2 separate regions of the Homo sapiens genome follow, and region 1 is linked to region 2. Evidence: fine-mapped expression QTL. Tissue or cell type: fibroblasts. Region 2 holds a variant in brackets; the other region holds the start of a gene. All regions are shown on one strand. Distances are from middle to middle.

Evidence for each region. PIP is the estimated chance that this variant, and not a neighbour inherited with it, causes the effect. A credible set is the group of variants that fine-mapping cannot tell apart.
Region 1: AP3S1 starts here. The variant in region 2 is the best candidate, but not a certain one, in a credible set for the expression of AP3S1 in fibroblasts (GTEx, PIP 0.58).

The regions. Positions count from the first base shown.
Region 1 is chr5:115,839,799-115,843,968 of GRCh38, forward strand. It overlaps AP3S1 (adaptor related protein complex 3 subunit sigma 1), which reads left to right and starts at 2,137. Exons shown (of 6, transcript NM_001284.4): 1 at 2,137-2,308. The coding sequence starts at 2,240. It overlaps ATG12 (autophagy related 12), which reads right to left and starts at 1,767. Exons shown (of 4, transcript NM_004707.4): 1 at 1,592-1,767. The coding sequence starts at 1,754. RefSeq lists enhancers at 630-1,130, 1,134-2,035, 1,424-1,723, 1,734-1,783, 2,774-2,983 and silencers at 2,014-2,393, 2,494-2,683.
Region 2 is chr5:115,947,163-115,951,520 of GRCh38, forward strand. No RefSeq gene overlaps it. Among named protein-coding and RNA genes, the nearest start is that of LINCADL, 7.2 kb to the right of the region's middle. The variant A/G (reference allele first, on the strand shown) is at 1,755.

The DNA.
Region 1 (4,170 bases), 110 kb before region 2:
AACAAATAATGACAAGCACAAGGTAGGAATAGTTAGAAACTAAGTTTTATATTGGAGAGGCAAACTCAAATGCTAACAAGAGCCAGAAAATAAAAATCTCATCCTTAAATGACAGTTCAATTTGCAAAAAAATACTGTCCAGACCAAGAAAATATGCCCTCGGGCAATATTTAGATTGTAAGCCATTTTTTTTAGCTTTTGTTTTGCACAGCTATCATCAGAGTCAAGTAACAAGTTTTGACTAAGACTGTTAGACCTTAAAACGAATCTCCGAACGTCCGCTCTTGCCTATAGTAAATTGGAAGAAAAAATGCAACAAAACACTGTAAAACCTGCGGAATTCTTTTGAAGAAAGATTCCAGTGGCTATCCATGGAAATACTTATAGTGCATCAGGTGGAAATGGGAGTCTGATTTAAAGTGGGAAGGGGGGCAGTCTTGGGAGAGAATTATCCTCCACAGTAGCAGAAGTTGAAGAAAAAGCAATGAGACCAATGTCTTTTTTTTTTTTTTTTTTGAGGCGGAGTTTCGCTCTTGTTGTCCAGGCTGGAGTGCAATGGCGAGACCTCCGCCCACTGCCACCTCCGCCTCGCGGGTTCAAGCGATTCTCCTGCCTCAGCCTCCCGAGTAGCTGGGATTACAGGCGCGCGCCACCACACCCATCTAACTTTTATATTTTTAGTAGAGATGGAGTCTTACCATGTTGGCCAGGCTGGTCTCGAACTCTTGACCTCAGGTGATCCACCCGCCTCAGCCTACCAAAGTGCTGGGATTACAGGAGTGAGCCACCGCGCCCGGCCAGAGACCACTGTCATCTTAAGACAGAACGGGGAAAACGTCTAAGGACGAAATCAGCCTCTCTGAATCGAGGATGCTTATATGCTGCTTTTCCCATAGGCAACTCTAACTCTAAACAGAGTGCTTTAGAACACGTAATTTTAGCAATCTCTTTTACAAAGGGAAACATTCTCAAGCAATAAAGGGTTGAGGATAGCTGACTCAAGCAATGAAATAACTCACAAAGGTTCCAAAATGTGTTTCTTAAAAAGGTAACATCTATGCCTTTAGCTTTCCCTTAGCAGTCTTCATTCTGCATAAGAATTTGGTTTTTGGTTTAAGGAGTGAATTCACAACCAACTGGGAGGGGGAAAAAAGCAAAAGCGAGTTAAGTTGGAAGGCATGAATTCTAATCCAGGCTTTGCCAATGACCACCCCTACCACCATAAAACATTACTCAAATAATTAGCTCCTGTGTTAAGTACCTGGAATTACCGAGACCCCCCTCCCCCCGCCCCACTCAGCTCCCTCCCTCCTTCAAAGAGCTCGCAGTCTGGCCAACTCAAAAAAATACAGTATAAAAATAAGTGTGGCAGCCAAGTATCAGGCCCTACACCGATAGACAGAGATGGTATTTTAACACTCAACTTAAAGGCCTTAAAAATCAAAAAGTACACTTCTTTTCTTCTGATGACTGGTCAAAATGCAGGTCTAGGACAGGCGCTCCTCTAAATTTTGCTTCTTTACTGGCCGCCACCCCTACTCGGATGCAATCTGAACCTCCCGCCTCTCTGCCCGGAAATAAATTCAGTTACTTTTTTTCTTGGTGTCGCCAGCAGGTTCCTCTGTTCCCGGGGAAACTGCAGCGGAAGACGGGGGCTCCGGGGTGGTTGTTTCTGGGGAGACATCCGTAAGTCCTTCCCCTCCAGCAGCAATTGAAGTAGGAAGCTGCAACACAGACTGCGGCTCCTCCGCCATCTTGCTTGGAGACACTCGAGAGCGGAAGTAGCGACTGAGCGCGTGCAGTGGGCGTGCTTTTCTCCAGGGAGCGTCGCAAAGGAGGCGCCGGAGTAGGGGGACGCAATTACACAGTGAAACTTGGTGTTCCCGGCTAGTCATTCAAATCGAAGCTGTCGCAGACCTCTGAACGTTAGTAACGCAACATGTGTTTCTCCGCGACTACAGACCTCGGGAGAGGAGCGGTGGGCAACGTGTCTGTGCTCGGTCGAATGCGCACACTCCAGTTAGGCCGCTGGCTCGGACCTAGAAATGTTTCCGCTTTCCTTAGTGCCTGCCCCGCCCAGGCCCCGCCCCTTGGGCCCCGCCCGACGGCTCGGGAGCGCGCGCGGTCGCGTGCGGGAGGGGGCGGGTGGGGAAGGATCGCAGGCGAGATTACGAGGCGAGGCTCGCGCGCCCGCCCCCGCCCTGGCCCCCAGTGCCCACCCGGTCGGCCCGGCACAGCCATGATCAAGGCGATCCTAATCTTCAACAACCACGGGAAGCCGCGGCTCTCCAAGTTCTACCAGCCCTACGTGAGTATCCAGCCGCCGCTGATCCGGGCGAGGGGGAGTCGTTGGCGACGGGCAGCGCCCAGCGCGGCTTTCTCAGAGCGACCCCCTCCGGCGCGCTGCGGCCCTTGTCCCGTCCCGGCCGCCTGGCGCTCGCCAGCTGTCAGCCTCCTGGTGGGTGTGGACAGGGTGCCCACCTCCCTGCCGCGCGGTCAGCCACCGACGTGGCTTTGCCCGGGCGGTTCCTCCGCCCGTCGGTGGGCTGCATGCTTTCCTGGCTGCGCGGGCGAGGCCCTGGAGACTTCCCGGGGCCCGGCCCTCGCCGATCGGGCAGCCGCAGCCCAGCCGCGCCGCGGAGCCCTGCGCCCAGTCCCCAAGAGCCCACCCCGCGCGGCTGCCTTCCTGCCGCCCGCGGCTGCAGTTAGCCCGGGAGGAGGAAGACGGCGTGGAACTCGTTCTTCTCGCCCCCCTCCGCCGACTCCCATCCTTTCCAGGTGGACTTCTTTCTGTTCTTTGGACAGATGGGCTACCGTTTTTCACTGTGGTCCTCTCATAGCACAGGAACTTTGGCTTCCTGCGTTTGATAACTGCACGTTCTGTACAGTCTCTCTTCTGCATGTTTCGATACGTGACAGACTGCCCAGTGTGACTTTCAGGTGTCTCCTTATTGAAAAGGAAGATATGTGAGGACCTAATATTTTTATCAGGCTTTTTACCAGCTGGCTGCAAATTATTTACCCTCGAAGTAACCGGCGACGTTTGTAGTTGACTGATTGGAGCTGTGGTTCTATACCTAAAAGTTATGATTTCAGCTTCTGGTTTGGCATTTTTCCACGTATGGGAATTTGCCCTCATTTATAGTTTTTTTCTATTTATGAAGAATAGTAGCATTTGTAGAACTTCTCTTTTAACGTGTAAATACTGTTTAGTATGGACAAGTGCAGGAGGCATTAAGGTAGTAGAGATAAGTGATTTGTTGATGATCGAGGAAGGGTTTTATAGAGTTATGTGCTTACCTGAGGGCAGAATTCGCTAGCTGAAACACATAAAATTGGACTCCCAGTGGTAGGATTAATGTGAGGTATAACTGTTGTGTGGTATTGTGGCACTTTGCTTATAGCAAGAAATGAGCTTTCAATTCAATTTTGAAATTGTGCCAAGGCTAACACTTTTATGCAGATAAGTCCCAGATGGAAATCAATCTTGCCATTACAAAGTAAATGTGAAAATGTCAGTTTGCCTAAAATGATAATGCAGTCTGGAGGTGTTAGTTGAAGTGAGAAATCTTGAGCTTATTCTTCATTTTTTTCAGTTGTTTTGCTTTTGCTAGCTATAAAGAATATTTTCTGCTACTCGTGTGTGGTTTTAATTTAGTATAACTTCAATACTAATGGTCTGTTTAAAAATTCTACATCATTCTTTAATCCAGATTAAATTCTAGTTGATCCTCCCGAATGGGAAAAAATGCCATTAACTTTACCTGTTTGTTAAAATATAGTACCAGCCTTTATTGAAGGAGTCTTTGTCATAACCATTTTGCCAGTGTCATCCATTTGCAGTGTAAAAAAGGTATGTTGCAATAGTAAAACAATTCAAAAAATTATTTTTCCATATCTAAACTTAAGCAATATTAAAAATAGTGGGTTTCCTGGCTAATCCATGTAATCGGTGTATACTACTCGTATAGTGTATAATTTAACTATCTATTGAAAAATGCATTTAATTTAGAAACTCAGAAATCTGTCTTTCCCTTGTCCAAAAGTGGGAACAGAAGTATTGTTTACCATCACTTACTAGGTAGCAGTGACGGTTAATGTGGGAAGTGGCAGTTTTGGCAGGAGTGGCAGCTCTGGTGGCATTTTTGGCCATTGTATGAGTGACAGTGC
Region 2 (4,358 bases):
TCCACAATCTCTCTTCTCCTATTCCAATGTACTTGAGGACCACAGGTTCAAAGTGATGAAGCAACAAAATGGATAAACACCATTCAAGCTGCATTAAATATCTTTTCTCTTCCTGCCTTCCTTGGTTCCTAGAGCCTCCTTGAGCTTTCTCTTCTTTGTGCACCCCAACTCCCTCTTCCTCACCTTACATCTTTCCTTGGTAAAGAGGCCAGGAGTAGCACTTTACAAAACAATATATGTGAGTAATATAAGACTCAGAGGCATACCGCCCCATGTGGAATTTGTCTATGCCACAATAATTTCATGTTTGCCTATGTTGCCTGTGTCTCTGTGAGGCTCATGATGTCACAGCAGAACCCCATCATGCATATTTTTATTATTGCTTCTACAACTAATGCTTTAACATGATTCTTTTAACTAGGACTCATCTAATTTTAACTTTTCTCCAGGAGAATGCCCACTTGGTCGGATTTCATACATACTTAGTCTTTACTCTTTATTATCTGCAATTAACAATAGGATATATTTACATGTCAATGATTTTAAGAACAATTTATTTACTCTTGTTTTTTTCAAGCTAATAAAATTTTATTTCCATTTGATGATGTTTATTGTAACTGAGCAAATACTCAATCTTTTCTAAATCAGGATAAAAATAAACACAGTAAGTTACTACATTATATAGGTATCATCAAAAGAGTTACTGTTTAATCCACTGACTATGAAAAATCAGCTTTTCATACTCTTTTATCAATATTCCAGATTGAAATTCTGTCACAGGCTAGCAAAAGTAGAGACCTTTATATATGACATCTGAACAAATAAGAGCCTCAGGGCCCAGCTGCAGATATTCAGTGTTATATAAAATATGGATCTAAGTCCTAGCTCTGTTTCCAACATGAATTCCCTCATGGAGCCTGGTGTATTCTTCTGGCTGCTTCTGCCCCTGCTGACTCCACAACAAGGACATCAGGACTCCAAGGACACCATGCCTCCTGGATTCGACAAAGGACCCTGCAGAGCCTGGCTTCCCCATGGTGTTCACATCAGTCATTGTCCTCTTCTCTCATTCCACCCCACCCCCTTTTCCAGCTGTCATGTATGAATACTTGCCAGCTCCTTGTTATTATTGCTTTTTGGAGTCTTTTCGGTTTAAGGATTGGGCAAGTTTGCAATTTAAACCTTATGGGTTTGAATTTTCAAGTGTGAACTTTGGTGATTACTCTTGTCCAAATGCAGCTTCCTGCCCTCGTGGAAAAAAAAAGTCTCCAGAGACATTTGGACATCTATTGCAAAAGATATTTGGACACCTATTGCAAAAGAACATATTGCTGATGATCTAAGTATAATGGAACCAGAAGTATATGGATTATATTTCCTCTTAAATGAGCATGATTTTCAAAATGAAGGAAGTGAGTGAATTATTTGGCAATATTGAGTTTGGAGATGGTCAATTTTTAAGTATTGGAAAAGTGAGACAGAAAACCAGGCCTGCTTTTAGGATTCTTCCTCCTTGGGTGGCAGGGAGTTACTATATTTGGTTCTGTTGCGGCCACTCCCCAGCTGTGAGAACTGTTGCACAGCCATCTCCTAGCATGGATTGGAGACTGCCACCATTCAAGGGCATTATTAAGTGATGGCCCATCACTCAAATGCATTTAACACTTGTAAATAAGTGGTTCATAATTGTAGGATATAACACTAATGGGAGTATTAAGCAGTTGAAGCCTTTGTAACAGATCAGCTACCAGCCT[A/G]GTCTTTTTTTTTTTTTTTAAATAGATTTCATTTTTTGGAACAATTTTAAGTTCATAGCAAAGTTGAGTGGAAGGTATGGAGATTTCTCATATACCCCCTACCTCCATTTGTAGCTTCTATCATTATGAACCTAACATTGACACACCACGATCATCCAAAGTTCATAGTTTATATCAGGGTTCACACTTGGTATGGTCTGTTCCATGGGTTTGGACAAACGTATAATGCTGTGTGTCCACCAATATAGTATCATACAGAGTTGTTTCACTGCCCTAAAATTTTTCTGTGCTCCACCTATTCATCTGTCCCTCCCCACATCCCCTAGAAACCACTGATCTTTTTACTGTCTCCATGGTTTTGCCCTTTCCAGGATGTCATCAAATTGGAATGAGAGTATGTAGCCTTTTCAGATTTAGTCAAGTCTTTGTAAACAGGAAGATCTGGTTTCAAATCCTGGCTAAGTGACCTTGGACAAGTTCTTTTGCTTTTCTGAGACTGTTTCCTTATCTTTGAGAATTAAATAAGACAATGTTTATCAAGTGCCAGGTTCAGACCTTGAAACATTCATTACTGTGCAGATTTACTTGATTCCTCAATAGAGAGAGAGGTGATTTTTTTGATTAAGGAGCACAACTATAGTAGGAAAAATCATTATAGCACTCCTTATGTCGGACCCAATATGACATAGATGTGTGTTTCCAAAATTTACACAATATGTAGAGATTGGTCAATGACCTGATTTAACAAGCATCTTCAGATCACCAAGTGGGGCTTCCCGCCTTTTCTCTTTAGGCACCATTAATTATTGGTTTCCCTTGGAATTTTGTCACAAAGAAGGAAAACCAGATAGAAGAAGGCCAGAAATGCCGCAAACACACAGGATGAAGTCATCCAATATGTGTGATATTGTTCCACAAATATAAATGTCTTAGAATTAACAAGAACAATTATACAGATCGTGCAAAGTCACAAAAAAGCAAGCTAAATGTCTGTGCAGAGTTGTAGGGCAATGCTGATGGGGCTGGGTAGGCATGAGCTGATGGTACAACTATCTTTGTGTTTCAAACATTTGGTAAAATAGTAAAAGTGAAAATCTACATTTGAAATTACTACAAGAATTATTGAGCAGAACTTATGTGCAACACAGGGAGTTAACTCGGTGGGAATGCAGATATTGAGGTGAGCCAGCCGGGACCTGCATTCAACAGACAGAAGCCAAGAAAGTCCTGCAGCAACAAAAACATCATATTATAAATAAACTGCCATTTAGCCCTCTGAGGAAAGTGGAAACTTTCCTTCTACTTCTAAATTTCTGTGGAGTTGTAGCAGCCTCTGAAATCTGGTCCCTGATGTGTTCTGTCATTCTAAAATAAGCCCAGGTCCCCAAGAAGCAGGGACCCCACCTGGCCTTCTGTGGGAAGAGCAGTCTCACATCACTGTTTTCTGATCACTTCATTAAACATGTGTCTCCTTCACTGTCACTAAAGAGACAACACGTTTAAAGCTGCCTTCTCCCACTGGCCCAAATAGGTTGCCTTGGAAATATCTTGGACCCATTCCTTTACTTCATTTCCCATTGCACCAAACTGCCACACCTTGTTAACTTTTTTTTTTTTTTTTTTTTTGAGACAGAGTCTTGCTCCCATCCATGTTGGAATGCAGTGGTGTGATTACAGCTCACTGTAATCACAGTAATCACAGCTCACTGTAATCACAGTAATCACAGCTCAAGAGATCCTCCCACCTCAGCCTCCCAAGAAGCTGAGATTACAGGCACATGCCACCATGCCCAGCTAATTTTTAAATGTTTTGCAGAGACAGTGTCTCATTATGTTGCCCATGCTGGTCTCAAACTCCTGGGCTGAAGAGATTCTCCTGCCTCGGCTTCCCAAAGTGCTGGGATTACAGATGTAAGCCACTGCGCACAGCCCTGTTGACTTAAAAAAAAAAAAAAAACTTTATTGAGATATAATTTATGTATCCTACAACTCCCCCATTTAAGTTATACAGTTTAACAGTTTTTAGTATAATCACAGATAGGTGCGATCATCACCATAGTTAATTTTACAACATTTTCATCACCTCAAAAAAAAACCTCCATATTTTTAGCTCTATGCTCTCCTGTCCCCTATATCCCAGCCTAAGCAACAACTAACCTATGTGCTGTATCTATAATTTGCCTATTCTGAATTTTCATATGAATGTAATTATGCAATGTGTGGTGTTTCATAACTGGCCTCTTTCACTTGGCCTAATGTTTTTGAGGTTCGTCCATGTTATAGAACATATCAGTACTCATTTCTTTCTATGGCCAAATAATATTCCATTGTATAGATACACCACATTTTGTCTATTCATGCATCAGTTGATGGACATTTGGGTTGTTTCCAATTTTTGGCTATCATAAATAATGCTGCCATAAACACTAGTGTACAAATTTGTGTGTGGATATATGTTTTTATTTTTCTTGCGCATATACCTAGGGGTGGCATTGCTGGATCATATAGTAACTCTAAGTTTAATCATTTGAGGAACTACCTGTTTTCCAAGGCAGCTGCACCATTTTACATTCCCATGAATAGTGTATGAGAGTTCCAATTTCT